Regions from separate parts of the Homo sapiens genome. Here region 1 is linked to region 2. Evidence: fine-mapped expression QTL. A gene starts in region 2. The other region holds a variant in brackets. All regions are shown on one strand. Distances are between the middles of the regions. Region 1 holds the start of HDDC3 (HD domain containing 3). Region 2 holds the start of MAN2A2 (mannosidase alpha class 2A member 2).

What was found.
Region 1: its variant is fine-mapped to the expression of MAN2A2 in whole blood (GTEx, PIP 0.99).

The regions. Positions count from the first base shown.
Region 1 is chr15:90,921,647-90,935,959 of GRCh38, forward strand. HDDC3 (HD domain containing 3) reads right to left here and starts at 10,903. Exons shown (of 4, transcript NM_001286451.2): 1 at 10,783-10,903; 2 at 10,409-10,464; 3 at 10,058-10,298; 4 at 8,322-9,759. The coding sequence starts at 10,894. The coding sequence ends at 9,629. UNC45A (unc-45 myosin chaperone A) reads left to right here and starts at 13,639. Exons shown (of 20, transcript NM_018671.5): 1 at 13,639-13,729; 2 at 13,898-14,059; 3 at 14,300-14,313. The coding sequence starts at 13,679. MAN2A2 (mannosidase alpha class 2A member 2) reads left to right here. Exons shown (of 23, transcript NM_006122.4): 23 at 1-933. RefSeq lists enhancers at 8,211-8,440, 10,071-10,300, 11,051-11,100, 12,725-12,824 and a silencer at 13,455-13,854. The variant G/C (reference allele first, on the strand shown) is at 9,862.
Region 2 is chr15:90,891,632-90,908,329 of GRCh38, forward strand. MAN2A2 (mannosidase alpha class 2A member 2) reads left to right here and starts at 11,671. Exons shown (of 23, transcript NM_006122.4): 1 at 11,671-11,801; 2 at 12,559-12,708; 3 at 13,620-13,877; 4 at 13,948-14,092; 5 at 14,214-14,385; 6 at 14,739-14,866; 7 at 15,109-15,282; 8 at 15,678-15,864. The coding sequence starts at 12,577. It overlaps FES (FES proto-oncogene, tyrosine kinase), which reads left to right. Exons shown (of 19, transcript NM_002005.4): 12 at 1-45; 13 at 427-480; 14 at 1,076-1,194; 15 at 1,469-1,563; 16 at 1,660-1,783; 17 at 2,023-2,180; 18 at 2,305-2,427; 19 at 3,785-4,145. The coding sequence ends at 3,927. RefSeq lists enhancers at 10,712-10,761, 12,602-12,661 and silencers at 10,932-11,201, 11,222-11,651.

The DNA.
Region 1 (14,313 bases), 29 kb after region 2:
GATGGCTCACGCCTGTAATCCCGGCACTTTGGGAGGCCAAGGTGGGTGGATCACTTGAGGTCAGGAGTTCGAGACCAGCCTGGCCAAGATGGCGAAACCCTGTGTCTACTAAAAATACAAAAACTAGCCAGGAATGGTGGCGCGCGCCTGTAATCCCAGTTACTTAGGAGGCTGAGGCAGGAGAATCACATCAACCTGGGAGGCGGAGGTTGCAGTGAGCTTAGATCATGCCACCATGCCACTGCACTCCAGCCTGGGTGACACAGCCAAAAAAAAAACCACTAAGTTAGATCTCTACCTCACAGTGTCCATACAAATTAGTTCCAGAGGGAAGATATACCACAAAATTACTCAAAAATTTTTATACCTCTGGTGTGGGACGGTCTTTTCTAAACTTTAACATGAGACTTAAAAGATATAATAAGGGAAAAGATAAGCAGATTTCGCAACCAAAAAATATCGAAAGTCTCTGTGTGATGGAAAACATCAAGGTTAAAACACAAATGACAGATATGGAAGAAAATATTTGCAGCACATAAAAAAATCAACGAGTACAATTACTTTAGGAGAAAAGCTTGCTTCAGGGTCCTTAGAGAAAGTCACTGGGGCCTGCCAAGCTGCCACCTAAAGACAAGAGTGAGAGGGCTGAGTTCTTCCAGGTCATCAGAGTTGTTGCTGCCCGTATTAGGCCACACAGTGGAACCCCATTTATATCATAGCAGAAGAAATAGGATTATCAATGTGAACTGCTTAGCATGGTGCCTGGTATATACGAGAGCTCCACAAATGTGAGCTATAATCCTACTAGTAAAGGATGCTAAGCAGTTCCACTGTGGCAGGTGTCATTTGCTAGTAGAATTTGTAATCAAACAATAGGAGGGGAATCTGTGAACGCCTAGAAAATGAGCAGAATAAAGGATATTATCTTTGGAAGTCTTAGATGTGCAATGAAATTATTTGTCTGACAGAAACGAATGCTGAATTCTATTTACTTAAGCCTTTAAAATGACTTAAGGCAGTCCGGGCACGGTGGCTCATGACTGTAATCCCAGCACCTTGGGAGGCCAAGGTGGGTGGACCACCTGAGCTCAGGAGTTGGAGACCAGCCTGGACAACATGGCGAAACCCCATCTCTACCAAAAAAATACAAAAATGAGCCGGGCGTGGTGGTGTGTGCCTGTAATCCCAGCTACTCGGTAGGCTGAGGCAGGAGAATCACTTGAACCTAGGAGGCAGAGGTTGCTGTGAGCCAAGATTGCGCCATTGTACTCCAGCCTGGGTGACAGAGCGAGACTCTGTCTCAAAAACAAAAAAACAAAAAAAAAAAACATAAAATGACTTAAGGCAGCATGGCTCAAGGTGTGATTCAGAATCACCAGAACTGCCATTGAAAGTACAGGTTTCTGTTCTGACTAGGGCTTCTTCAGCCTGGAGGCTGCAGTGCAGATGCGTAGGGCAGAGCCACAGCTGCCCTGAGACTGCTGTGTCATAGGAGATAGGAGCAAGAAACAAAAGCTGACTTCAGTGCACAGGGGGATAAAGGCAGATTCCTGGGTACAACCTTTGAACTGGTTTCTGGGAGTAGAGGCCAAATAATTTGCATTTTTAACAAGCTCCCAGGTGATTCTTGTGCATGCATAATTTGGAAATGGCCCAACTTTTAAAGCAAGCAGCAACCCTTTACCACAGAGCTGTGGTACTGAGGCCTCACGGTTTGTTTGTTTGTTTTTTTTTTTTTTGAGACAGAGTCTTGCCTTGTTGCCCAGGATAGAGTGCAGTGGCACAATCTCGGCTCACTGCAACCTCCGCCTCCTGGGTTCAAGCAATTCTCATGCCTCAGCCTCCCAAGTAGCTGGGACTATAGGCGTGCACCACCATGCCTGGCTAATTTTTGTATTTTTAGTAGAGACAGGTTTTCACCATGTTGGCCAGACTGGTCTTGAACTCCTGACCTCAAGTGATCCGCCTGTCTCGGCCTCCCAAAGTGCTGGGATTACAGGCGTGAGCCACTGCGCCCGGCCAGCCTCACAGTTCTGAGGGTTACCATCAAAATGAACCAGGACATGACAGAAGCCATTTCAACCACTGGAGACGGATCGGATTCTATTCCTACATTTACTTGGAACCATCCAGCTTTCATGAAGAAGGAAGGGCTGTATGGCCAGTTGGAACCACAGAGAGAAAGGCTCCAGTTGAACCACTTAAGAGCTGGTCCTCCCATGCAGGGCGAGCCAGCCCAGACAGTGTCCTCATATGGCTTGCCTCAGGGTAGGTAAAACATAAAACCTCGACCACTTGTGCAGAGAGAGCAGCATCTTTAATTTGACCTGAACCTGACTTGCTTACCTTGCTCTGTCACTGGGGCATCTGTGCACTCACGGAGGGGGAAAATCAGTCTAGGATGGTGGGAATGAGGCTTACCATCCACAATAGAGATCTCTGAACAAAATCTTTGTTCTTCCCTAACAAAAAAGTGTGTGAAGGACAAACACTTCAAGGGCTCATTCTCATTCTCATTCTCATAGTGAGAAGAGATAAGACAGAGACCAGATCCTTCGCAACAACCCTCAATTTTACTTAGGGTCAGTGAGAAATCAATTCAGATGGTAACAGTACCCAGGACCAGCTGGGTCTGCAGTTGGCTCCTGACTCCTGACATTCTGGCTCCTGACTTTGGACCTCCCTAGTTGAGAATAAACCTGAACTAAAAATCCATGTAGTTAGGTAGTCTGGGCACAGGAAACCAAAGTGGGGTTGGAGATGCGGACTCTGTCATTCTGAATGTGACAGAGTTGAAGATTTGAGACACAGCATTGAGTGTGGAGACCTAGAGAAGGCCCCTCAGTGGAGTAGGAAGGACTGGGGTTTCCCAGTCAGCATGCCTCCCGCAAGTTTGAATATTTGTGTCCCTCTCAAATTCATACTGAAACTTAACCTCCAATGCAGCATATTAAGAGGTGGGGCCTTTAGAAGGTGATTAGGTCATGAGAGCTTCTCCCTCGTGAATAGGATTAAGGCCCTAATGAAAGAGGCTTCACACAGCCTGCCTTTTTTACTGTGTGAGGATGCAGTGACCACCTTGGAAGCAAAAAGCAGCCCTCGCTAGACACCGAACCTGCCAGCACCTTCATCTTGGACTTCCTGCTTCTAGAACTGTGAGAAAACGAATTTCTGTTCTTTATAAATTACCCAGTCTCAGGTATTTTTGTCATAACAGCACAGACTAACATACCTAGAGACTTGCATTCCAACTAGAGGCGCAAGCACACCTATAATTCTGCCCTCTCAACTCCTAATGCCAGAGATTGCTAAATAAATACTAAAAATGTAAAAACAGGCCGGGCACAGCCCAGCACTTTGGGAGGCCGAGGCAGGCAGATCACCTGAGGTCAGGAGTTCCAGACCAGCCAGACCACCATGGCGAAACCCCATCTCTACTAAAAAATACAAAAATTAGCCGGGTGTGGTGGTGGGCGCCTGTAATCCCAGCTACTTGGGAGGCTGAGGCACGAGAATCACTTGAACCCAGGAGGCAGAGGTTGCAGTGAGCTGAGATCTTGCCATTGCACTCCAGCCTGGGCAACAGAGCAAGACTCCATCTCAAAAAAAAAAAAAAAAAAAAAAAAAAGAAAGCAAAAACTGTCAAACTCAAAATAAAGGAAATCTTCTTTGACAAAGAATGGAGAGAATAATACAGCCATTAGCAGAGGCTGAGGCTATACAGCTTGAGAGAAGTAGAGACTAGTTCAGGATGGTAGGTGCTGGGACTTCAAAGTCCACGTGGGACAGGTAACCAAGTGTAACCTAGGAACGTCAAGGGACCAGAACCAGACTCTGAGAGGTACACAGGCAGGAAAAATGTAAGTTGCAAACAAAAACAGGATGACATGCAAGCAATCTAAAAAAATACTTTAAAAAATATATATGTGCAATCACCAAAGAGCTAAAGATATTCAGTCTTGCAATGAGAAACTGACTGAAAAGAAGCAAATAAGATTTTACAAATTATACATGCTGGAAATGTAAAAATACAATTATTGAAATATACTCTATGTATGGTATAAGCCCTAGACTGGAGGCAGATGACATAAAAATTTAGCAGGTCTGGAAAACAACTGAGGAATCACCCAGAATGCACCACAGTGATAAAAGAAATATAAAAAAGAAGCTAAGACAGATGGAGGATAGACTGAGAAGCTTTGGCATAATGTTTCATAGCAGTTTTAGAAAAAAAGACTAGTGAGAATACAGGGATGAGAAAACAAAGACGGTGAATTTTTCAGAACTGAAGAAAGATGTGAGATCTCAGAATCAAAGAGCTCATTAAGTTCCAAGAAAGGTACATTTAAAAAAAAAGGCCAGGCCGGGTGCGGTGGCTCATGCCTGTAATCCCAGCACTTTGGGAGGCCGAGGCGGGTGGAACATGAGGTCAGGAGATCGAGACCATCCTGGCTAACATGGTGAGATCCCGTCACTACTAAAAAAATACAAAAAAATTAGCTGGGCCAGGTGGCAGGCGCCTGTAGTCCCAGCTACTCAGGAGGCTGAGGCAGGAGAATGGCGAGAACCCAGGAGGCAGAGGTTGCAGTGAGCCGAGATCGCACCACTGCACTCCAGCCTGGGTGACAGAGCAAGACTCCATCTCAAAAAAAATAGATAGCTGGGCGCGGTGGCTCACCCCTGTAATCCCAGCACTTTGGGAGGCCGAGGCGGGCGGATCATGGGGTCAGGAGATCGAGACCATCCTGGCTAACATGGTGAAACCTTGTCTCTACTAAAAGTACAAAAAATTAGCCGGGCATGGTGGCGGGCGCCTGTAGTCTCAGCTACTTGGGAGGCTGAGGCAGGAGAATGGCATGAACCCGGAGGCAGAGGTTTTAGTGAGCCGAGATCGCGCCACTGCACTCCAGCCTGGGCGACAGAGTGAGACTCCGTCTCAAAACAACAACAACAACAACAAACAAACAAATAAATAAATAAACAGGCCAGGTGCAGTGGCTCATGTCTATAATCCCAGTACTTTGGGAGGCCAACGTGGGCAGATCACTTGAGGTCAGGAGTTTGAGACTAGCCTGGCCAACGTGGTGAAACCCTGTCTCTACTAAAAATACAAAAAAACCCAAAAACCAGAAAAATCAAAATGTAGCGGGGCATGCTGGTGTGTGCCTATAGCCTGTAATCCCAGCTACTTGGAAGGCTGAGGCAGAAGAATCGCTTGAACCTGGGAGATGGAGGTTGCAAATAGCCAAGATCATGCCACTGCACTTCATCCTGAGCGACAGAGCACGACTCCGTCTCAAAAAAATTAAAACAATTTAAAAAACCTCGTGTAGATATATTGCAAATTACGTAAGATAAAACCTAAAGGCCAGGCACGGTGGCTCACGCCTGTAATTCCAGCACTTTGGGAGGCCAAGGTGGGTGGATCACCTGAGGTCAGGAGTTTGAGATCGGCCTGGCCCACATGGCAAAACCCTGTCTGTACTAAAAATACAAAAATTAGCTGGGCTGGTGGCATGCGCCTGTAGTCAAAGCTACTCAGGAGGCTGAGGCAGAAGAATAGCTTAAACCAGGGAGGTGGAGGTTGCAGTTAGCTGAGATCATGCCACTGCACTCCAGCCTTGGCAATAGAGTGAGTGGGATTCACTCTCAAAAGAGAAAGGCAAATATAAGAACTTATTGAGAAACTGCAGGAATGAATATAACCTGTTGTACAACCATGGTTTAACTGTAGATTTTTAGCCTAGCTTTTTTTTTTTTTTTTTTTTTTTTGAGACGGAGTCTAGCTCTGTCGCCCAAGCTGGAGTGCAGTGGCGTGATCTCGGCTCACTGCAACCTCTGCCTCCCAGGTTCAAGTGATTCTCCTGCCTCAGCCTCCCAAGTAGCTGGGACTAAAGGCGCCCGCCACCACGCCTGGCTAATTTTTTGTAGTTTTAGTAGAGACAGGGTTTCACCGTGTTAGCCAGGATGGTCTTGATCTCCTGACCTCATGATCCACCCGCCTCGGCCTCCCAAAGTGTTGGGATTACAGGCGTGAGCCACCACACTGGCCTTTTTTTTTTTTTTTTTTTTTGAGACGGAGTCTTGCTCTGTCTCCCAGGCTGGAGTGCAGTGGCATGACCTTGGCTCACTGCAACCTCCGCCTCCTGGGTTCAAGTGATTCTCCTGCCTCAGCCTCCCGAGTAGCTGGGACTACAGGTGCCCGCCACCATGCCCGGCTAATTTTTTTGTATTTTTAGTAGAGACGGGGTTTCACCATGTTAGCCAGGATGGTCTCGATCTCCTGACTTCGTGATCCACCCGCCTGGGCCTCCCAAATTGCTGGGATTACAGGCGTGAGCCTCTGCACCCAGCCTGCCTAGTGTGTTTCTTTGGAACTTATCAAAATGTCTCTGGAGGCCGGGCACGATGGCTTCATGCCTGTAATCCCAGCACTTTGGGAGGCCAAGGCAGGCGGATAACTTGAGGTCAGGAGTTTGAGACCAGCCTGGCCAGCATGGTGAAACCCTGTCTCTACTAGAAATACAAAAATTAGCCGGGCGTGGTGGCACACATCTGTAATCCCAGCTACTAGGGAGGCTGTGGCATAAGAATCGCTTGAACCCAGGAGGCAGAGGTTGCAGTGAGCCGAGATTGCGCCACTGTACTCCAGCCTGGGTGACAGAGCGAGAATCCATCTTAAAAAAAAAAAAAGGCTCTGGAACATTTCATTTCCTGTTTTGTTACTGACCTGTGACTCTGTAAAAGTCTACTTTCGCAATTTGGATTAATAATTTTATGAATGCAAATTGGAGATGCTGTTCAAAAAAAAAAAAATAGAAAAGTCTTACAAAGGAAAGACAATCACAGTGATAGCAGACATCTAGTTAGCTACAGTAGACACCTGGAGTCCATTCAAACCTAGAGAAAACTCAGCCTTGAATTTGCTATCAGCTACACCATTCAAGAGCACGGGGGAAATGAAGACATTTTCAGACATGCAAAGACTCAACAGTTTGCAATGTACAAAACTTTAGTGGAAGAAAGTAGGTGTACTTAAGCAAAAAGAGAATTTGTCTAGGGGCATAAACTAATGAGAGGGAGGGTACACCTAAATACTGGCTATAAATGTAATACTAGTTTATAGTTTAAAAAGAGGCAGGAACTAAAATTCTAGAAAGCAATATTGTGAAGAGTTATTCAAGGCTGGGCACAGTGGCTCACGCCTGTAATCCCAGCACTTTGGGAGGCTGAGGTGGGCAGATCACCTGAGGTCAGGAGTTCGAGACCAGTGTGGCCAACTTAGTGGAACGCCATCTCTACTAAAAAATAAAAAATAAAAAAATCCAAAAACAGGTACTAAGAGGACAGACCTTGCATCAAATGGTGCTAGGAAAACTGGACATCCACAAGCAAAACCATACATCATATATTTTGTATATGGTGTATATACAAAAAAATTACACCATATACAAAAATTAACCCAAAATGTTCTTGCCACAAAAACAACAAAAAATTGGGTAACTACGTGAAATGATGGATGTGTTAATTTGCTTCACTATAGTAACCTTTTTACTACCTGTATGTAGCCTCATAACATCATGTATACCTTATACCAAATTAAATTGATTTAAAAAGAAATTTAACCCAAAATGGATCAAAAACTTTACTTGTAAGAGCTAAAACGATAACTTTGGGAGGCCAAGGCGGGTGGATCACCTGAAGTCAGGAGTTAAAGACCAGCCTGGGCAGCAAGGATAAATCCCGTCACTACTAAAAATACAACAATTAGCCATGCGTGGTGGCGCACGCCTGTTATCCCAGCTACTCGGGAGACTGAGGCAGGAGAATAGCTTGAACCCGGGAAGCGGAGGTTATGGTGAGCAGAGATGGCACCATTGCACTCCAGCCTGGGCAACAAGAGTGAAACTCCGTCTCAAAAAAAAAAGCTAAAACGAAAGCTCCTAGAAGAAAACAGGAAAAGCTTCATGGCATTAGATTTGGCAACGATTTCTTAGATATGACACTAAAAACACAGGCAACAAAATATATAAAGTGGACTACAACAAAGTCATCTTTTCTTAAAAAAATCTCGTTATCTTACTCCCGCAAAACTATTTAAAAAAATTAAGTTCAAAGTTCTCCAAAATGTACCATACCCTGGGGATTACTCTGAACTTTGTTCATTTGTTTTCTTTTAATTCGGCTTTTTTGGTTGCCTTTCACCTACTTTTTCGCAGAGCCCTCCGCTGGGGCCTTCACTTGGGCAAACAACTATCGTAGTCGAACAGCTTTGACCTAACAATTTCCTCGTACCCAAGATGATCGCTTTTCCAGACAACTTAATAAACTTTGGCTTTAATGGATGACTGGATGCAGAATAAAATACATAAAAATAAACCTCAGCTGCTCAGCAACGACTGAAAAACCACCACCGGGCAATCCCTCCCCATGGCCACCGAGCAAAGTTCCACCGCCTCCCCTACGCCGACCGCCGGGCTCCCGGGGTCGGACAGCCCCGGGCCACTTCCGGGCCTTCCCGGAAGTCCCTGTCACTTAACAACCGAAGTAACCCGCAATGCGGAAGGGCGAGGGGATTGCGAGTCACCGAGTTTCCCGCGCGGCTTGAGGTACTGGGGAACCGGAATCCCCCACCGGCCCAATCATGTTGCTGCTGGGGTCTCTCCGGTGCCCAGCAGTGGTTGTCAGTAAGCGGGCGGCACTCCCTTCCGATACGTCTTTTCTTTTTTCATTTTTGAGACGGAGTCTCGCTGTGTCACCCAAGCTGGAGTGCAGTGGCGCGATCTCGGCTCAGTACAAACTCCGCCTCCCGGGTTCAAGCGAGTCTCCTGCCTCAGCCTCCTGAGTAGCTGGGATTACAGGCGCGAGCCACTGCGCCCGGCTAATTTTTTTTTGTATTTTTAGTAGAGACGGGGCCTCGCCATGCTGGCCAGGCTGGTCTTGAACTCCTGACCTCAAGTGATCCGCCCGCCTCGGTCTCCCAGAGTGCTGGGATTACAGGCGAGAGACACCGCGCCTGGCCCCCTTCCAACTTTCTTAACGGGAAAGGCTGCTACCATTTCTTGAGCACCTATGTGTCAGGCTCCATCAGGCACGTCACAGTCTAACCTGATAATTACACAACCCATGTCACTGACAAGGAAGCCAGGTTCGGAGGGGTTGAGGCCCGCAACCTGAGGGAGGTGACTCCGGGACACACAATTAGTCCTGCTTTGCTGAAGGAAAGATATGCAGCCCACCAGTCGGAGGCTGGAGAAGGAGCAGCAGCAGCTTAAACCTTAACCCAGAGTTATTTTTATTTTCCAGAACGTGTTAGGAACTAGTACTTAAATAATCTCAAGTCCCTGAGGGGCCAGAGATCCCACCATGCAAAATAGCAAACAGACCCAAGACTTGGGGAGAGGCGGTGAGTGCATCAGAAATGGATGGGTACATCTGATTCCCACCACGCGGGGCTCAGCTTAGTTAGCAGGAGACCTTCAGACTGAGAAAAAATGCAAGTCTTTTTTTGGCCTCTAATATCTGGGAAGGATGGAGGGAGCTCAGGAGACACAGAAAAGATGGCGTATGAATCCTGTCCGGCCTGAACGAGGCTGGAGTTGTGCCTCTGGATAGCTTCAAGCACTGATCAGATTGTCAGCCCCCGCTGCTTGAACAGATGCTTTAGAGCCTCTTCCAGTTGCCGGTTTGTTCCCTGAAGCCCCTTCACCACCTGCGCTGCCCACTCGAAGTATTCCTGGACTCGATGTTCTGACCATCCTGCATAAGAGTCGACAGAAACTTGCTAGCGTGATGTCAAGGAAAGCACTGCCTTTTCCCCACTTCCTGGCAAGCTTGGTTCAAGGCCATGAGTTCCTGATG[G/C]AATGAGCTGTCCTGAAAACTTCCCCTTGGCCCAGCTATTGTATTTTTACTGTATGAAAGAAGATCAAAGAGTGGTCCAGTAGGATTAATTTGGGAATTAAGAATGCCCAGGGTTTTTCAGGGGAACTGACCAACATGTGTCTTCAGAAGGCGGCATCCCCCTCCCTTTTCCCTTACAGCCCATACGAAAGCGTACCCTCTGGGGTGCAGCGATTCAGGTCCCTCAGATTGTACAGCTTGTCTGCCAGCTTCACCAGTTTGGCCCCGGGGCTACTGTGGGGCGCTTGCTCCACCTGCAGCCTCTTTCTCTCCAGCTTGGGCAGAGTCTTGTCATCTGTTACCTCCTCCACCAGGCGCCGCACTTGTGCCCCAAAGTGTAGCTCCACCTCATCCAGGGTGGTGTCTGTGTCCTCCACCGTGTCATGGAGCAGGGCCGCCTGGGGACAAGTTCCCACTCAGCCCTGAGATGTCAGCCAAGGGTTGCCCATTGCTGAATGGGGCCCCTAATCCCCATCCCAGGCTCCTGGCAGAGAAGGGGGAAAGTTACCTGTAACACCACAATGTCAGTGATTCCCGCCTCGTGGGTCAGGATCCGTGCCACACCTGACGGGGAGGGGCAAAGCAGGAAGTCAGGTCGGAGGTAGTCCCAAGGCGGTGTGTTGTGGGTTTTGGAGAGCCAGATGTGGCCCCTTGTGGACTCTGACTAGCTGGGTGACCTTGGTCAAGTACCTTACCCTCTGGGAGCCAACCGACAAAGGGAACGATCATGCCTACCGTTCCAATTGTTATGAGGCTTAAACGGTATATCGCACTAAGCTTGGGACAAAACAGGTGCTCAATGAGGTGCACGCCCCCCACGTTTCCTTCCCAGTCCCCACCACCCAGGTGCCGCAGCCGGCGCTCCGCGGCCGACGCGCCCACCGATGGGGTGGTTGATGTAGGGGGTCCCCTCGGGGTCCTTCCGCCGCTGCTGCCGGTGCTTGCGAGCCGCGAAGTCGGCAGCCTCCAGCAGCTGCGCCGCCTCAGAGCCCATCGCGCGGATGGGGCCGACGACTGCGGCCGCAGGGGCAGGGACGGAACGTTTACAGCGCCCCCTGGCGCCGGGGAGGCCCGGGGATCGTGGAGGCTAATTCAGCGGGCCGAGTTGGGCCTGCCCCAGATGAATTCCTCTGGAGCTGACCGGCCCGCGCAGAGAGCAAGTGATGTGGACAGCTGCCTTCAGCATCGCAGCCCCCAGCTCAGTGTGCTCTGTTGGGGGTGCAAGAAGAACATAAGCCTGGCTCTTTGGGAGCCCACAGTCTGTGGAAAAGAGGAAGACAGACAAGAAATAAGGCAGTGGCCTCACAGTGCTCTGAATCCAGGGTGGCCAAGGCTCAGGGGACTATGGGAGCGGGAAGAAAGAACAATCCCCACACCCTCAGAGTCAGAGACAGCTTCTCCCAGAAGCTCCCCCCAAGAACCATCTTCAACCTGTAAAAGCTCTGAAAATTCTCCAAGTGTTCTAAAAATAGTTCTCCCTGTAGGGATGGGCCAGGTTCTGTGGGCAGGGGAGTCTACCTTTGGACCCTCCAGGAGACCCTAGGGCCTGACCTGAAAAATCAGAGCCTTCCCTGGGAGCCCTGCCTAATTGCTTCAGACTTAGGCTCCCAGGTAGCTGTGACGTTTCTGCAGGAACTGCCTTTGTTTGTCCTCAGTGTTGCAGATGAAATTTGCCTTGTCTTCTTATGCTATGAGAGCTCCTATTTCAGTCTCTAGGCATCTTCTGTGGGCCCCTGGGGTGATGAGTGTTGTCACTGCTGTCCTGGGAGCATGATGTTGTCAGGCCTGGGTAGGCACTGGAATAACACTTAATTCTGCTGGCTGGTGGCCTTCTGGAGAAATTCCCTGCCTTAGGGGCAGCTGAGGGGTAAGAGAGACCTGGTGATCCCCATAGAACTTCTCTGTGAGAGGGGGTTCCCTATTAGCTAAGTATACTCTAATCAGACATGTAGCTTTTGTGTTCTGGCTGGTAGCTGGGGCAGATAAGGCTCAGGGGAAAGGCTAATGAAAGGAGTCACCCTTGGTTTTCAGCTAGTCTTGGTGGTTGCCACGTAGCAGAGGTTAGGGAGGGAAGCCCCACATGCTGGAACTGAGGTCTCTGGGACCTGAAATAGGAGGGTCAGAATTCCCAGAGCTTCCATGGCAGCCTGGAAGTTGGAGAATGGGTAGAAACATATTTGGCTGTAAATGCTTGTTTGTTCTTCATACTAATGGCTCAGCTGCTCTCTCATCCCTCATTCTGTCCTCTAGTCCTTTGAGCCTTCTCTCCTTCAGCAGTTTGGCAATGCAGGCCCCACGTTTTCCAACAGGAGACAGAAACCCAGTCCCTGTCATCTCTCTCTAAAAGCCTGTGATAGAGAAGCTTCAGGCTCGTATTAATGGTGCCCAAGGGCCTTGGGGCTTTGACTTTTATTTCCTTATTGTCTGCAGTCACGGCCTAGAAAGAGAGATGTTGGGGTTCCCAGGACCAGGACAGAGGTGGTAGTGAACTCTCATGGGCATCCAGAGAAGGTCAGGCCCCTTGCTGACAGGCCTATCTGTGGGGCTACTGCTGCTCTTCAGCTGGGTGACCCTTGTCCAGCCAACCTCTCTCTCAGGTACAGCACTTACCCCTGTGGCCCACCTGCCTCTGGTGCTATGGGCTATTCCTGGGAACTGGAACTGATGGGGATGGGTGGAAGGGCATCTTTTCTTCTGGTAGGGGCTGATCTCTTTTACTCTCCAGTAGGGGTGGAGTGAGCTGTGGAAAGGCCCCTCCTGCTTGTCTCTAGCACCCCCACCTCTCTCTTCAGCTCTGGTCCACCACCCTCACTTGTGCCAGACCACCCGGGATGTCCATGGCCGTCACTACCCTGGTTTCTTTTGCCCTCGTCTGTCTGATTCTCCAGAGGAAGCCTACTGCTGCCACCTGCAGGCTGCAGGGGGCTCCTGCTGCACCCGGGCTGAATTTGAGGCCCTGTACCAAGTCAATCTGTCCGCTCTTCCGCCCCCGCCCATCCTCAGGTGAGATCTCCAACCCCAGAGCCACTGGAACATCGACAGGGTGTTCCAGTATCTGGGGCTCTGTTCCTAAATTATGGGGTGGTAGGCTTGTAACTTACAGACTAGTGAAGGGACAGACCGCAACAGAAAATCATGTAGATCATGATTACAATTACAAAGGAGAAGTTCAGGGGGCTGTGCAAGCTGGTAATGGGGAGCCATCCTGAATCTGCCCATGGGTGGCTCTAGGATGAGCTCCTAAATTCGTATGCAAATGTGTGTATGTAAGACGACACTTATTTGGGGAGGGAGTCCTGAGCTTTCTCCGGACTCCCAGGGATTCTGTACCCCCCACAGAGCGCAGCAGCGAGAGCGCGGTCGGGGCCGGGATCCAGATACTTTTTCTCTCCCGCAGGGGCCCAGGCCCGCTCCTAGTGCTGGGCCTCTACAACCTACTGGTTGTGACCCTGATGACCGTAGACCTCGTGCACTTCTGCTGCGGTCGGGGCCGGAGTCTGGGCTGGAGCCACCGCAGGCCTCCCTCTGGGTCCTCCGCCGCGAGCTCCCTGCAGGTCTCTGCGGGGACAGCTTAGGTGCGCCCGGAGCTTGCCTGCACCTGCGATCCAGAGCCAAGCGCCCCGCCCCTGCCCGGGCGCGCTCCCTCCTTAGCCCTGCCCCTCTCTGACCCCACCTCCGACGCAAGAGTGGGGCGGGGCAGCTGCCGGTGGCGTCCCGAACCCAGACTCGCCCCGCCCCAGAGACTGCGCCTGCGCGGGCACGAGACAACCTCTCCGCGATGACTGTGAGTGGTCCAGGGACCCCCGAGCCCCGGCCGGCCACCCCCGGGGTGCGTACCCAACCCCCGCGCCATCACCCCTTCGCACCCGCCCTGACCATCCCTGGCCTCCTTCTCCCCATCCATGAGGCTCGCCCCGATCCCTCCTCTCCTCTCCCCTTAGCTCCCGGGCTCTGCCCCGAACCCCCTCCGACGTTTCCGCCCCCTTTCTCTCTACAGGCCAGCTCAGTGGAGCAGCTGCGGAAGGAGGGCAATGAGCTGTTCAAATGTGGAGACTACGGGGGCGCCCTGGCGGCCTACACTCAGGCCCTGGGTCTGGACGCGACGCCCCAGGACCAGGCCGTTCTGCACCGGAACCGGGCCGCCTGCCACCTCAAGCTGGTGAGGGAGCCTGGCGCTCTTCCCCTCGCCCGCCCGGGCCCCGGTTCGCCCATCTAAGCTGATGCTTGGGCCCCAGCTGGACATTCACGCTCCCAGGCCATCCCCGCTTGCCAGATGTTTTTTGCACCTCAGGGTGGTGGGGGATCGGGTGACCTTGGAGAGCGAGAGTACCCCTGCTGCCTGGTTAGTGCCCCGAGAGGGAGATGACCATTCCTTCAGGCTCCTGTCTTTCTCTTACAGGAAGATTACGACAA
Region 2 (16,698 bases):
CTCACCAAGAAGAGTGGTGTTGTCCTGCACAGGGCTGTGCCCAAGGTGAGCCTGCACCCAGCCTGGCCCATGCCACCTGTGGCAGGGCTTGGGGAGTGTGGGTCAGGCCCACCCAGCGTCTGAGCAGAAAGGGCTTTCCAGGCCCTCCGTCTACATACAAGATGCAGAGTGAGTGACCCTCAGGGCCAGCCTTGCTCTAGGTTTGGAATGTCAGGGCCACTCCTATGCCATGGGCTGTACACACCAGGTTGGTGCTTACCTGGTCAGGGCACCTGCCTGGACCCCGTAGTCATCTCAGTGTGCTCCCCACGTGGTCCCACCCCTGGTCACATATGGAGGCGCCAAAAAATGGAGGACACAGCCCTTCTAAGGGCCCAGCACCCCTTTTCTTCAGACTTCTGATCCCCTGTCTCCTCTCTTCCCCAGGACAAGTGGGTGCTGAACCATGAGGACCTGGTGTTGGGTGAGCAGATTGGACGGGTGAGTGCGCCTCTGCTGGCCTCCTTGTCGCTGGCGACTTCTCCTGAGTCGCGCCTGGGCCCCCTGCCCTACCACCCAGAGACCTCCCTGCCCCATCTGATTCCCCACTTGTACCCCGACTCCCTGCCCAGCCCCCACCACACACCATCCTCCAGGAAACGGGACAGTACCTACCCTGAAAACTCCCAGCAGACAGCTCTGCCAGCACCCTGACCTCATCACCCCCACCCAGGCCGCCCCCATCGAGCTCTTGTGTGCACGCAGGGAGACACCCTGTTACTGTAAGCCATAAGATACCTGTTTAGGGAAGAAGTCACTGTCCTAAAAATCAGAATGCTTTTCAAACCCAAGGGAGAGTGATTTTTGGATTTCCATGTCACTTCTCTCAGGAAGGGTGGCACATCGGAGGCAACTTTCCCTGCCTGCCCCATGTGCTCTCTAGGTTCCCCAGCGAGGGTCAAACTCCCAGAGAGCCTGGGTGAGGGGTCCGAACACGGGGGCCCCTCACCCAGGGGTAGGAAGCAGAATGGGTAGGAAGCGGAGAAGAGAACTGCGGGACTGGGAAGGCCGTGGTAGGAGCCCAAGACCGTTTCAGGGGAACTTTGGCGAAGTGTTCAGCGGACGCCTGCGAGCCGACAACACCCTGGTGGCGGTGAAGTCTTGTCGAGAGACGCTCCCACCTGACCTCAAGGCCAAGTTTCTACAGGAAGCGAGGTGGGTGATAAACTAATGATCACCACGGGTCCCGCATACACAGAGGTTACACTGCATGGCACAGTGTGAAGTGCTTGACCACCGTGGTGGTGTTTAGTCCTCGAGGCCCCCCATTGCGGGTAGTACCCCCTTATAGTGCCGAAGGGTAGAGGCTGCCCCAGGTCACACGTCCGGGTCTGCTGGCCTTGGAGGCCAAGCTCTTCTCCCATCATCCCTGGGGGGCCCTGGGGAGGCGGGCCTGGCCACGTAGATCCTGAGCAGCAGTGCCCTCCAGGATCCTGAAGCAGTACAGCCACCCCAACATCGTGCGTCTCATTGGTGTCTGCACCCAGAAGCAGCCCATCTACATCGTCATGGAGCTTGTGCAGGGTGAGCGCGGGGCGCTGAGCTCCAGGTAGGGCGCGCAGCCTGGTCAGGTGGCAGCCTTACCTCAGGAGGCTCAGCAGGGGTCCTCCCCACCTGCAGGGGGCGACTTCCTGACCTTCCTCCGCACGGAGGGGGCCCGCCTGCGGGTGAAGACTCTGCTGCAGATGGTGGGGGATGCAGCTGCTGGCATGGAGTACCTGGAGAGCAAGTGCTGCATCCACCGGTGAGTGGGCGGTGGCCACGGGCCCTGCCAACACCCCCGACCAGAGTCAAGAGGTACCTATACCCCTAGGGCCCCCCGCTGGACCATCAGGCATCAGCTCCAGAGGGGGAGTTGGCCTCTGTGGTAGACAGGGGTGCCCAGGGCCGGGAGCAGCTTTTGTCCTTGGCTTTCCTAGAGTGTTCAGCCAGGGCTGGGCAGGCGACTGTTGGCCAAATGAGCCCCTGCCCTGTCTCACCCAGGGACCTGGCTGCTCGGAACTGCCTGGTGACAGAGAAGAATGTCCTGAAGATCAGTGACTTTGGGATGTCCCGAGAGGAAGCCGATGGGGTCTATGCAGCCTCAGGGGGCCTCAGACAAGTCCCCGTGAAGTGGACCGCACCTGAGGCCCTTAACTACGGTACCTAGTCCCTGTCTACCCTGGACTCCATGGCCAGAGGCCAGGCCTGGGTCCTGCCGGCTGCCTCGCCCTGGCCCCAGGGAGGGTGCACTCACGCTGCCTCACCTCCTCGCCTCCTCTGCAGGCCGCTACTCCTCCGAAAGCGACGTGTGGAGCTTTGGCATCTTGCTCTGGGAGACCTTCAGCCTGGGGGCCTCCCCCTATCCCAACCTCAGCAATCAGCAGACACGGGAGTTTGTGGAGAAGGGTAAGCACCCTGTGATGACAGCAGCCTCAGGCTGCACCCTCTTCCAGATGCTCCAGCCGGACTCTTCTAACTCCCTTAATGCCAACCTTCCCACCAGGCAGAATAAGAATAACCTGGCCAGTTGCTCACGCCTGTCATCCCAGCACTTTGGGAGGCTGAGCTGGGTGGATCACTTGAGCCCAGGAGTTCAAGATCAGCTTGGACAACACAGTGAAACTCCATCTGTACAAAAAATACAAAAATAGACTGGGCACGGTGGCTCACACCTGTAATCCCAGCACTTTGGGAGGCCGAGGCAGGTGGATCACCTGTGGTCAGGAGTTTGAGACCAGCCAGACCAACATGGTGAAACCCCATCTCTACTAAAAATACAAAAATTAGCCAGGCATGGTGGCACGTGCCTGTAATCCCAGCTACTTGGGAGGCTGAGGTGGGAGAATTGCTTGAACCCAGGAGGCGGAGGCTGCAGTGAGCCGAGATTGTGCCACTGCACTCCAGCCTGGGCGACAAGAGTGAAACTCCATCTCAAAAAAAACCAAAAAACAAAAAATACAAAAATTAGCTGGGTGTGGTGACATGCGCCTGTAGTCCCTGCTACTCGGGAGGCTGAGGTGGGAGGATCACTGGAGCCCGGGAGGTGGAGGTTGCAGTGAGCTGAGATCATGCCACTGCACCCCAACCTGGGTGACAGAGAGAGAGAGAGACCTTGACTCGAAAAAGAAAAAAACCTGGGCGCAGTGGCTCACGCCTGTAATTTCAACATTTTGGGAGGCTGAGGAAGGTGGATCACTTGAGTCTAGGAGTTTGACACTAGCCTGGCCAACATGGCAAAACCTGTCTCTACTAAAAATACAAAAAATTAGCGAGGTGTAGTGGTGCAAGCCTGTAATCCCAGCTACTTGGGAGGCTGAGGCACAAGAATCGCTTGAACCTGGGAGGTGGAGGTTGCAGTGAGCTGAGATCACACCACTGCATTCCAGCGTGGGTGACAGAGCAAGACTCCATCTCAGAAAAAGAAAAAAAAAAATAGAATATCCCTGTAGCTACTACTGAGTGAGCACCTGGTCTGTGCTAGGTCACATGTTATTTCATTTGCTCATCACTACATGTGTGGTAGGGATTAATATGTCCCTTTCTCAGATGGAAAAACAGGCTGGCAGAGGGGACACAGCTAGCACGTGGTAGGATTAGGATCAGAAGCCAGGCCTCTTTGTCCTTTGGGCCCTTGGTGGAGAACAGTGCATCCTTCAGAACAGTGCATCTTAAGCAGCTCCTATGGCTCATGGTATCCCCCAGAGTCTGCCGAGGACCCTCAAACTCCCTCCTCATGCCTGGTGTGCTGTGCCTCTCCTCACAGGGGGCCGTCTGCCCTGCCCAGAGCTGTGTCCTGATGCCGTGTTCAGGCTCATGGAGCAGTGCTGGGCCTATGAGCCTGGGCAGCGGCCCAGCTTCAGCACCATCTACCAGGAGCTGCAGAGCATCCGAAAGCGGCATCGGTGAGGCTGGGACCCCCTTCTCAAGCTGGTGGCCTCTGCAGGCCTAGGTGCAGCTCCTCAGCGGCTCCAGCTCATATGCTGACAGCTCTTCACAGTCCTGGACTCCTGCCACCAGCATCCACACTGCCGGCAGGATGCAGCGCCGTGTCCTCTCTGTGTCCCTGCTGCTGCCAGGGCTTCCTCTTCCGGGCAGAAACAATAAAACCACTTGTGCCCACTGAACACTCCTGGCATGTGCACTCCTCTGGAAGGCAGGTCTCAGAAGGCACAAGTGCCGGTATGGTGGCCTTGGGGAAGGAGGAGGACAGGCAGTATGCATGGGGCAGAGCTGACATGATTTAGTAGCAGCTGGATGTGAGACATGCGGAAGGCGGGGGAGAGATCAGGATGATATACAGGCTATGGCCAGATGGCGGTGTCATCCCCTGAAATAGGATTATAGGAAGAGGATCAGAGCTTCGAGGAGGATGTTGAGTTTAGAGATGTTGCATTTTATTGGAGATAAAAGTGTGGGTGAAGCCAGGTGTGGTGGTAGACACCTGTAGTCCCAGGTACTTGGGAGGCCAAGGCATGTGGATTGCTTGAGCCTAGTTTGAGACCAGCCTGGGCAACATGGCAAAACTCCATCTTTACAAAAACAAAAAACAAAAAACAAAAAACCAAGAAAATTAGCCAGGCGTGGTGGCACACACCTATAGTCCCAGCTACTCAGAAGGCTGAGGTAGGAGGATCAATTGAGCCTCGGAGGTCGAGGCTGCAGTGAGCTGTGATCACACCACTGCATTCCAGCCTGGGCAACAAAGCGAGGCCCTGTCTCAAAAATAAGTAAATAAAAATAATAAATAATTAATTTAAAATGTAGATGAATAGGTCTGGAAGCCCAGATGGAGATGAAGGCTGGCAATAGATGTGTGAATCATTGGCTTATGAATATTAGAGAGTAGCTGACACTATGGATGCGTATAACACTCGCATAAAATTCAGGAGGAGATGAGAAGAGAGTTCCACTCAAAGAAGACTGATGTGGCTGATGAGGAAGAAAATGCTTTTGAGGGAGTTGTTTCTCAAGATGAATTTATTGAGGAATAAGATGGCAGACTGGGGAGCCTTCACCTCCTCCCCTAAGTCCCAGTGAAACCTAAAAAGTCATCTGAAATATTAACATCACCAAAAGCGAAGTTTGAGAAGATAAGGAAGTATGAACATAACTAAAAAACAAAGTGGGAAACATTTGTAATACAGAACAGGGCAATGAAAACCTTGAAGTAAAATGGCCATCCCTCAAGAAAGTTCAGGAAATAGTTAACATCAGCTGGGTGCAGTGGCTCACACCTATAATCCCAGCACTTTGGAAGGCTGAGGCAGGTGGATCACCTGAGGTCAGGAGCTCGAGACCAGTCTGGCCAACATAGTGAAACTCCGTCTCTGCTAAAAATACAAAAAAAATTAGCCAGGCGTGGTGGTGTGCACCTGTAATCCCAGCTACTCTGGAGGCTGAGAAGGGAGAATTCCTTGAACCGGGGAGATGAAGGTTGGAGTGAGCAGAGACCGCGCCATTGCACTCCAGCCTGGGCAACAAGAGCGAAGAACAAAACTATGTCTCAAAAAAACAAAACACAGCAAACAAAAATCTATTTTGAAAGAGATGAGAGTGAGCCATATAACTTGTTTAAACAAAAGGAAGTTGTGTTGTCGTGTAATTAAATGAAAATACTAGGAAGTGAAATAATACCTCCAATGGAAATGGTAGAAAGCAGAACTGAAAAACTTCTGCTAGGTAGGATATGGTAGGTCTCTGCACGCCACCACTCCCATTGCAACCGCTAGGGAAAAAACAGCTAAGATGAAAATGTCTTTTTTTTTCTTTTTTTTTTTTTTTTGAGATGGAGTCTCGCGCTGTTGCACAGGCTGGAGTGCAGTGGCGCGATCTCAGTTCACTGCAACCTCTGCCTCTCGGGTTCAAGCGATTCTCCTGCCTCAGCCTCCTGAGTAGCTGGGATTACAGGCACGCATCACTACGAGCGGCTAATTTTTGTAATTTTAGTAGAGACGGGGTTTCAACATGTTGGTCAGGCTGGTCTCAAACTCCTGACCTCAAGTGACCCGCCCACCTCGGCCTCCCAAAGTGTTGGGATTACAGGGATGAGCCACCACGCCTGGCCGAAATGTCTTATTTTTAAAAAGAATGAAGAGTGGTCACAGAAATAAAGACTGAATGGACTAAAATTTCAAGGAGGGAAGAGCCCTTCCGAGTTGAACTAGTGATAGGCAGCTATTTTCTTCCCTGAAACATTTGCCCATTTGGGACATGAGGATCAGACTTGGCCCAAGCAGAGAGACTCTACTGGGGAAGAGAGAAAGGAACAGTTTTTGGTAGTTGCAAGGACTTGCTATGGATTAGGACCTAGAGGAGCACAAAATGCAGAGTGTTTTCCCCATGGGACATTTGCTGAGTTCTGAGGCAGTGCAGGAGACTGAGAAGGCAAGTCCCACAGTCTTGCAGTGTTTAGAGAGGAGGCCTGGAGTGAACAAATAGCTGGTCTCCCCAACATAAGGTATTTGCCAGGTTTTGCGCCTGTGTGGGTTGGGAAGCTAAAGAGCTCCCTTTAAATCTCTGAAGAGCAGAACTTTAAGATCTGAGAGAGACAGAGACTGACTAGGCTTTCAATCCAAAATCCAAGAGGGCCATTCCTAAGGAACAAGGACAACCAGGAGGGGATTGAATTTTACTGCAATTCCAACACTGCCCCAACCCAGTTCAGTACGTAATTGCATCGAAGTGACTAGCTCCTGTAGGGAATAACAAGATTTGAAGCCCCTATCCTTCTTTTATACCCAATATGTGACATACAATTAAAAATCATAAACCATGCAAAAAATGGAGAAATGTGGGGCTAATACATAAAAGAAAAAATAAATAAAAGCAGACCCACATGTGATCCAGGCATTGGAACTGGCAAAGATTTTTAAATAACTTGGTTAATATGTCAAATAGAGAAGAAGATGGACAAAAAAGAAGCAAATGTAGAGAATGTCAACAGAGTTGGAATCTATTAAAAGAGGATGAAAGGAGGCTATTGAACTGAAAAATACCCCTGAAATTACAAACTCATTGGATGGATTTCATAAACATTGATAGAAGTAAAGGATAAAATCACAATCGAATTTAGAAATTAAGTCATATCAGAAAACAGAATTAGTGAACTTAATAGGTTAAAAGGAGGTACCTAAACTGAAGTACAGAGAGGAAAAAAGAGAATGGAAGCTAAGAAACATGGGACTATATGAATAATTCAAGTTACAGAAGAAGTGGAGAGAGAAATTAGGTCCAGAACAACTGGAAAATGACCCAAACGTATATACAGCAATAAAAACAAACAAACAAAACACCACTAATATATGCACCGACATTGATGAATGTCAAAGACGTGGTTGGGCACAGTGGCTCATGCCTGTAACCCCAGCACTTTGGGAGGCCAAGGTGGGCAAATCACTTGATGCCAAGAGTTGACCAGCCTGGCCAACATGGTGAAACCCCGTCTCTACTAAAAATACAAAAATTAGATGGGTGTGGTGGCACATGCCTGTAGTCCCAGCTACTCAGGAGGCCAAGGCATGAGAATCACTTGAACCCAGGAGGCGGAGGTTGCAGTAAACTGAGATCGCACCACTGCACTCCAGCTTGGGTGACAGCAAGACTGTCTCAAAAAAAAAAAAAAAAAGTCATACTGAGTAAAGAAGCCAGACATGAAAAGAGTTCATACTTATGATTCTATTTTATGAAGTTCAAGAACAGGCAAAACTAAGTTACAGAGAAGTCAAAGCAGTGCTTATGTCTGGAGGGTCCTGATGGAAAGGCGTGTGAAGATGGAGGGGAAAAGGTTCACCATGGTGCCCTTACAACCATGTGTGTCTCTACATGGGCCACATAGGCAAGGCTGGACCACAGTCTGACAGCCACTATGGTGTGCTTAGGGACTGCTTGGCCACTTAACACGGGAACATTTTGGGTAGATGGGAATGTCCTGCATTTTGATCTGGGTGGTGATTATGCTTGTGTATGTATTTATCAAAACCCATCAAGCTGTACACTTAAGATTTGTGCCACACAGTGTAAACTGTACCTAAATTTTTAAAAAAGAACCACCAGACAACAAACAAGAATTCTTGAAAATTGAGATTATCAGGCTGGGCGCGGTGGCTCATGCCTGTAATCCCAGCACTTTGGGAGGCTGAGGTGGGCAGATCACCTGAGGTTGGGAGTTCGAGACGAGTCCAACCAACATGGAGAAACCCTATCCCTACTAAAAATACCAAATTAGCCAGGCGTGGTGGCAGATGCCTGTAATCCCAGCTACTCAGGAGGCTGAGGCAAGAGAATCACTCGAATCCAGAGGCAGAGGTTGTGGTGAGTGGAGATCACGCCATTGCACTCCAGCCTGGGCAACAAGAGCAGAACTCCCTCTCAAAACGAAGGAAAAAAGAAGATTATCACCAAAATGAGGCTGAGCACGGTGGCTCACGCCTGTAATCCCAACACTTTGGGAGGCCGAGGTGGGCAAATCACCTGAGGTCAGGAGTTCAAGACCAGCCTGGCCAACATGGTGAAACCCCATCTCTACTAAAAATACAAAAATTAGCTGGGCATGGTGGTGCGCGCTTCTAATCCCAGCTACTCGGGAGGCTGAAGCACAAGAATCACTTGAACCTGGGAAGCAGAGGTTGCAGTGAGCTGAGATCACGCCACCACTCTTCAGCCTGAGCGACAGAGTGAGACTTTGTCTCAAAAAAAAAAAAAAAAAAAAAAAAATTACCAAAATGGAAAATTCAATAGAAGGGCTGGAAAATAAATCTCCCAGAACACAAGGCAAAATATGAAAAGACAAAGAGGATGATGAGCCCAGTCTAGGTCTAACACCCTAATAACAGGCATTCCAGTGAGTAAACAAACCTGGAAAGCTGTTCCTGATGGTGATAAAAGAAGTGGCAGTCGAGTGCAGTGGCTTATCCCTGTAATCACAGCACTTTGGGAAGCTGAGGCAGGAGGATCAAGGCCAGGAGTTCGAGGCTGCAGTGAACCATGATCACACCACTGCACTCCAGCCTGGGTGACAGACAAGAGCTTGTCAAAAACAATAAAAAAATAAAAAGAGCTGGGCACTATGGCTCATATCTGTAATCCTGGAACTTTGGAAGGCCAAAGTGGGGGGATCGCTTGAGCCCAGGAGTTGGAGAACAGCCTGGGCAACACAGTGAGACCCTCCCACCCACCACAAAAAATAAAAAAATTAGGGCCGGGCACAGTGACTCACGCCTGTAATCCCAGCACTTTGGGAGGCTGAGGCAGGTGGATCACCTGAGGTCAGGAGTTCGAGACCAGCCTGGACAACATGGTAAAACCCCATCTCTACTAAAAACACAAAATTAGCCAGGTATGGTGGCACGTGCCTGTAGTCCCAGCTATTTGGGAGGCTGAGGCAGGAGAATCGCTTGAACCTGGGAGGCGGAGGTTGCAGTGAGCCAAGATCGCGCCATTGCACTCCAGCCTGGGCAACAAGAACGAAACTCCGTCTCAAAAAATAAAAATAAAAAAATTAAAAAATAAAAAAATTAGCTGGGTGTAGTGGCACATACCTGTAAGGCTCAGCTACTCAGGAGGCTGAAGTGGGAGGATGGCTTGAGTCTGGAAGGTCAAAGATGCAGTGAGCTGAGATGGTGCCACTGCACTCCAGCCTGGGAAACAGTGAGATATTGTCTCAAAAAAAAGAAATGGTCGTTAAATAAGAGATAGCATTGATCATTCTCAGCAAACTAACACAGGAACAGAAAACCAAACACCGCATGTTCTCACTAATAAGTGGGAGTTAACAATGAAAACACATGGACACAGAGAGGGGAACATCACACACCGGGGCCTGTCGGGGGTTGGGGGCAAGGTGAGGGAGAGCACCTAATGTATGTGGGGCTTAAAACCTAGATGATGGGTTGATGGGTGCAGCAAACCACCATGGCACATGTATACCTATGTAACAAATCTGCATGTTCTGCACATGTATCCCAGAACTTAAAGGAAAATTTTTAAAAATGAGATGGCATTATATATCTCATTAATCAGCTAAAACATTGTTTAAGCAATATCCAGCAGTTTGTTATTGATGGTGTAAACTGGTACAGTCTTTTGGGGGAGCGATAGTGTCATCAGTCATCTCTGTCCTTATCTTTTGCCCGGGTAACTTCACTGTTGCAAATTCATCATAAAATAACGTCTTAATCTGTTCGGGCTGTTAGGACAAAATACCATAAAGTAGGTAGTTTATCAACAACAGAAATGTATTTTCTCACAGTTCTGGAGGCTGGAAAGTCCATGATAAGGCATAAGCGGATTCAGTGTCGGGTGAGGGCCTGCCTGTGGTGCACAGATAGTGCCTTCTAGCTGTGTTCTCACGTGGTTGAAGGGGCCGACTCTCGGGGTCATTTGATACCGGCACTAATCCCATTCATGAGAGCTCTCCCTTCAAACTCTGTTCACCCCCAAAGGCCCATCTCCTAATACCATCATCACCTTGAGGGATTAGGATTTGAACATGAATTTGGGGGGTCACATTCAGATAATGTTATATATAACTTAAAAAGAACAAAAATGTGGAATTCATGGAGATGTTCATTGCAGTATGGATTACACTGAAAAACTGTAAACAACCTAGATGCCCAGTAAAAGGGAAACAGCCAAGAAAAGTCTGTGTCTTGTTCACTCGCTGGCAGGAAACATAGAGCAGGCACGGAAAGGAAAGGGACTCGAGGAATGCGCTGTACCGACAGGAGGCAGCACCCCTTTGCCCGAGGGGCGCAACGACAGAGACCTAAGGCTACCTGGGCCGGAGCCGGGTGAGGCCGCGGAGAACGCACCCCGCTACGCGTCTGCCGAGACGGAGGCGGGCGTTTCGACCACTGCCCGATCATGCGCTTACTCAAGTAGGATTCCGAAAAAATTCAGTCGCGCGTCCCTCCTGAGGTTCCGCAGCTGGCCAGGCCCGGCCCGGGCTGGTGCGGCTGCGCACTGCAGCCCAGCGGAGCGGGCCCGGGAGGAGCCGGGCGGGGACCGCGGCGGCCAGAGCTCCTGTCAGCTCCGCCGGGCACACGCAGGCCGGGGCGGGCGGCGCGGCTGTCCCCGCCCCGCACGCTGCTGGGCCCGGCAGCTTCAGAGGCTGGCGGACCCGCGCGGGGCCGGCGCAGCGGAGCGCGCCGGCGGCCCGGGGCCCAGCGGGAGCGCGGCAGCGGCGCGCGGAGCAGGGGGCTACGGGTGGGCGGGCGCCCGCCTTCGCCTGCGTCGCTGCCTGCACGCGGGCCGCCGTCCCCGGGCGTGTGAGAGCCGGCAGCTCGGCCGACTGGGCCCGGAGCGGCGCGGAGGCCGGGCGCTGACGGTAACGGGCCGGGTGCGCGCGCGGGAGGGCTCCGGCTGCCCCGACAGAGGCCGGGCTCGGGCGGCGGGAGTGCGAGCGCCACTGCGGCGTCAGAGGGGCCAGGAAGGGACAGGAGGCTGCCTGAGGCCCGTACCTGGCGCCTGTCTCTGCGGTCCCCGGGGCCGACGAAGTCGGAGCGGGTGGGGAGGGAGCCGGGCGGGCGGCCAGAGACCTGGCGGCAGGTGCCTGCCCTCTGTGATCCAACTCTCTCCCCAGCTCCACCCACATTGGCCTAGACCCAGTCTCTAAGGGCTGAAAATATTGCCCGGAAGCTCCCGAGCAGAATCAGATCGCGCTAAGTAGGGCACAACGCAGAGGCGACAAAGCTCCTCGGCCCCAGGGCCCGCGGAGCAGACTCCGGAGCGCGGTCCCGCCCACGCTCGGCTCCGCAGTTAGCGTCCTCCTTCCTCCTGAGCAGGCAAGCGGAGCCCGAGGGCGGTGGCGGCGGGGGGCACGGGTCCCCTGAAGTTGCCTCGCAGCTGAGCACTGGGCCCCGTCTCTCCCTTCCCAGGGGGCCTTCGGCGTCACTGCAGGCTTCCTAGGGGTCCCCTAAGTGCTCTGCAAACCGCGGCTGGAAGTTTCCCACTGCAGTGAACAGTAGAGAAACAGGGAGAACACACAGGGCTTGCTTTATGCTAGAAACACAAGCATCTTTCTTCTTTATTAGAAAGAAACTCATTCTGTGTTTCTGAGAAAGGATCGTGCCAGGCACTGTTTCTGGTGAGTGCCAGTTTGACCCGAAAGGGCACTGAGAAAGGCTTTCCTATCAGTCTCTTTGGGTTCTGGCTAAACTTTTAAATCAAACAAAATAGAGACTAGCTTATTCACCTGAAACTAGAAGCACATGGCCGAGGAGCCTGAACAGGCACCTCCTATCTAGGCAGGGAAGCTGTGTAATCAGGAGCTTGTGTGGTGCGCTCCAGTCGGAGCTGGGACTCTTATCCTGGGCCCGTTTTTCATAGCACCAGCCAAAGGAGAGCGTCCTCTCCACCCTAGCGGCAGAGCTGCTACCAGGACCAGGTGGGCCAGCCTCAGATGTGCTGCTTGTGCTACTTGGAGCCAGGCAAATGGGTGTTCCTTTGGAACAGCCCTCAGGAACTCACTGGGGTATTTGGTGGAAAGACTGCCACGGGCATTTTGCATGTTGGAGCTACAGATGGTGTCCTTCCTGCCAGGTGTGTGTGGAGGCCAGTATGAAGCTGAAAAAGCAGGTGACAGTGTGTGGGGCTGCCATCTTCTGTGTGGCAGTCTTCTCGCTCTACCTCATGCTGGACCGAGTGCAACACGATCCCACCCGACACCAGAATGGTGGGAACTTCCCCCGGGTGAGTCGTGCCTGGTTGCTAATTTCTTTGTATACAAGTCACCTGGGCTCAGGGTATGCACCTCCCACCCCGCCGCCTCCCCTCCCACCCCCCGCTGGAGGGTAATGTCAGTACAGGACAGGAGCCTTCCTTCCCAATAGTCAGGTTTTGTAGAAACCCTCAGCTAAAAACAGTGATGGCGAAAAGAAGGAAGGAAGAAAAAATGTCAATGGCAATGAGTATTGTCACTCTGTTCTCCTGAATTCTTTTCTTTCTTTTTTTTTTTTTTGAGACAGAGTCTCGCTCTGTCGCCCAGCCTTGAGTGCAGTGGCGCGATCTTGGCTCACTGCAACCTCCGCCTCCCAGGTTCAAGCAATTCTCCTGCCTCAGCCTCCCAAGTAGCTGGGACTACAGGAGCCTGCCACCATGCCCGACTAATTTTTGTATTTTTAGTAGAGACGAGACGAGGTATCGCCATGTTGGCCAGGCTGGTCTTGAACTCCTGACCTCAGGTGATCCACCCACCTTGGCCTCCCAAAGTGCTGGGATTACAGGTGTGGGCCACCGCGCCCAGCCCCTCCTGAATTCTTGGCAGACATTGCTAATTGATTGCAGCATTCTTTGCCATTAAGCCCCGCTGAAATCCTCAGCACAGGCAACACCGATTGTTGAGAATAGGTAGGTGAAAGGAAATCTTTGCCATCCCTGAGCTAGAGAGTGATGGTTCTCCCAACCCAAGTGGAGTGTAGTCCTCAGTGGTGATCTGCACAGCTCCCTTTATCTGAACGGTGTCATCTATCCCTCTAGGCTCATGGTCTGGCTTTGACTGATGAGGGAAGAATTGTACTCAGGCCTCAGCTGGTAGACCCCAAGCAGAGACCCTCCCTGTGGCATAAGGAGCTGTGTGTGATTGCTTTCTGGTTTTTTGGCAGAGCCAAATTTCTGTGCTGCAGAACCGCATTGAGCAGCTGGAGCAGCTTTTGGAGGAGAACCATGAGATTATCAGCCATATCAAGGACTCCGTGCTGGAGCTGACAGCCAACGCAGAGGGCCCGCCCGCCATGCTGCCCTACTACACGGTCAATGGCTCCTGGGTGGTGCCACCGGAGCCCCGGCCCAGCTTCTTCTCCATCTCCCCGCAGGACTGCCAGTTTGCTTTGGGGGGCCGGGGTCAGAAGCCAGAGCTGCAGGTAAGAGTCAGAGCTGGCAGGGACGTACAGTGGCCACGACTGGGGTACTGAGCTGCAGTTCACCTGGCAGATGCTCACTGTGTCGGAGGAGCTGCCGTTTGACAACGTGGATGGTGGTGTGTGGAGGCAAGGCTTCGACATCTCCTACGACCCGCACGACTGGGATGCTGAAGACCTGCAGGTGTTTGTGGTGCCCCACTCTCACAATGACCCAGGTGAGGGCCCTGCAGACTCCTGGGAGCTGGAGTGTGGAGTGGGATTTCTGATGGCCAATACAAGGGAGGGACGTCGAAGAAGATGGTGGCATCCTCAGGGGACCCTACATTGGCTCCCTAGGCTGGATCAAGACCTTTGACAAGTACTACACAGAGCAGACCCAACACATCCTCAATAGCATGGTGTCTAAGCTGCAGGAGGACCCCCGGCGGCGCTTCCTCTGGGCAGAGGTCTCCTTCTTCGCCAAGTGGTGGGACAACATCAATGTCCAAAAGAGAGCGGCAGTCCGAAGGCCAGTACCAGGCGGGGAGGCATGGGAGGGCATTGTCTGAGCCCCAGGCTGGGTGGACGGGTCTTACCTTAAGCTATGGGTGCCAAGGTGGCAGGGAGAGGCCCAGAGAGCTGTGGAAGAGATGAGTGATGGTGGAGGGAGGGAAGGCAAAAACAGATAGGTTCCGAGATAAGCGGGGCCAGGATAGCCTGGAGGTTGGCTGTAAGGAAAGGAGGGCAAGTGTGTGTTCTCTTGGTCCTGGGATTGGGAGAACTGGTCCAGTGAGGCCAGTGCACACAGGCCCTGACATTTGCTGGTTGGCAGGACTGGGCAGAGTGTCCTGCTCCGTCCTGAGTGTGAGTCCTTAACTATAGGCTGGTGGGAAACGGGCAGCTGGAGATTGCGACAGGAGGCTGGGTGATGCCAGATGAGGCCAATTCCCACTACTTTGCATTGATTGACCAGCTCATCGAAGGACACCAGTGGCTGGAGAGAAATCTTGGTAAGTCCAGGCCCAGGCATGGGGGTCTGCCCCCTGGGCTGTAAGGCACAGGCAGGGGCTGTAAGGCACAGGGATCGGCAGGGGGTGGTTCCTTTCTAGGCAGATCCCACCATGTGGGCCTGGTGTGATATCATCTCTCCACTCACTACCAGGACAAGAGCTGGGGTCCCAGCACCTGGAAGGCCGGGGGGCCAGCCCCTGAGGTGTGTTCAGGGCCTCTCTGGCTTCCATGCCCTGCCCAGGTGCAACCCCCCGCTCTGGCTGGGCAGTGGACCCCTTTGGATACAGCTCCACCATGCCTTACCTGCTGCGCCGTGCCAACCTCACCAGCATGCTGATTCAGAGAGTGCACTATGCCATCAAGAAGCACTTTGCTGCCACCCACAGCCTAGAGTTCATGTGGAGGCAGACATGGGGTAAGGCCGGGTAGGGTAGAGGGGGTTACTGCAGCATAGTCTTCACTGGGGAACAGCAGGGATATCAGAACTAAGACCCCCACTGTTCTTCAGAGCAGACCTGCAGGCACTGGTGTGGACTGCCAGAAATGGTCGCACCCTCTGGTTAGGGGAGGGCCATATTGACCTCTGGCCTCTACAGGGCCTGCTGTCCCAAGGGCTTCAGCGTGCCCTGTGTGCCCGTCCCCTGAGGGAGCCCCTCATGTCTTTCTCCCTGGCCTACACACTCTCTCCAGCCCTAGGTCCAGTTACAGCCTCGCGGTCTATCAGGGCTGCCTTTAGCCTGAACAGATCCTTGCCCCCCTGGCGTCCAGAGGCTGCCTGCTGGTGGTGACCACGTGGTGTGTCTCCTGCAGACTCGGACTCCAGCACAGACATCTTCTGTCACATGATGCCCTTCTACAGCTATGACGTCCCCCATACCTGTGGCCCAGATCCCAAGATCTGCTGCCAATTTGATTTCAAACGCCTGCCTGGTGGGCGCATCAACTGCCCTTGGAAGGTGCCACCCCGGGCCATCACAGAGGCCAACGTGGCAGAGAGGTATCTGCTTCCAGCCCTTTCACTTCACAGAGGAATCGGGAGGCCTGGCTCTGGTCTGGGCCGTGCCACGTGGAGGGTGGGCTCAGGTGGTGAGTTGAGGCTCCTAGCCTCTGCAGCAGCAGCTCCTTACTAAGTCTCCTGAAAAACTGGAATGGCTCTTGCAACCACCTTTCACAGAATGCTTTTAGGTTCTCACATGAGTACTTCTTGATGCCCTAACAAACTGCCAGGGCCAGCTGACAACTTAGAGGTGAAGGATTCCCAGGTTAGATGTATGTTACAAACTTCAGGCTCATGTGCCTTCACTTAGTGCCAGTGTTCTGACTTGGCTTTAAGTCAACCACGAGAATCCTGTTCAGATCCACATTCAGTCCCACGAGATAGCCTCCAGCCTCTGAGAAAACAGACCTGTCCCTTTTGAGAGAATTTAGGGACCCCTAAAGATAGCACTCTTGCTGAAATCAGGCCCCGGGGGAAAGTGTTAGGTAAGAGTTGATCCAAACAGCAATTTAGTCAGAACCTTAAGAATACGACAAGTTGGATTGGTTTTTATGTTGCAATGCTCTGATTTCTCCCTGATGTCCAAGAGTTGAAACGTGACCAAAAGGGAAATAAAGTGGTCTTTTGTTTCCAGAAGTCTAAATGGCGATTCCAGGCAAGAATCTAGGGCTATGAGGGCGTGACTTTTCTTAAAGCAGCAGTTGTGATCAGTGAGGCTGGCCTAGGTTTACAAGAACAGGCCCTGAAAGGTAACCATTTTCTCCTTTGAAAGGCTTACTAGACTGATAAGTTAGGGGAAAGTGGTATTTGAGGAATCCTCTCATGAGAACAGAG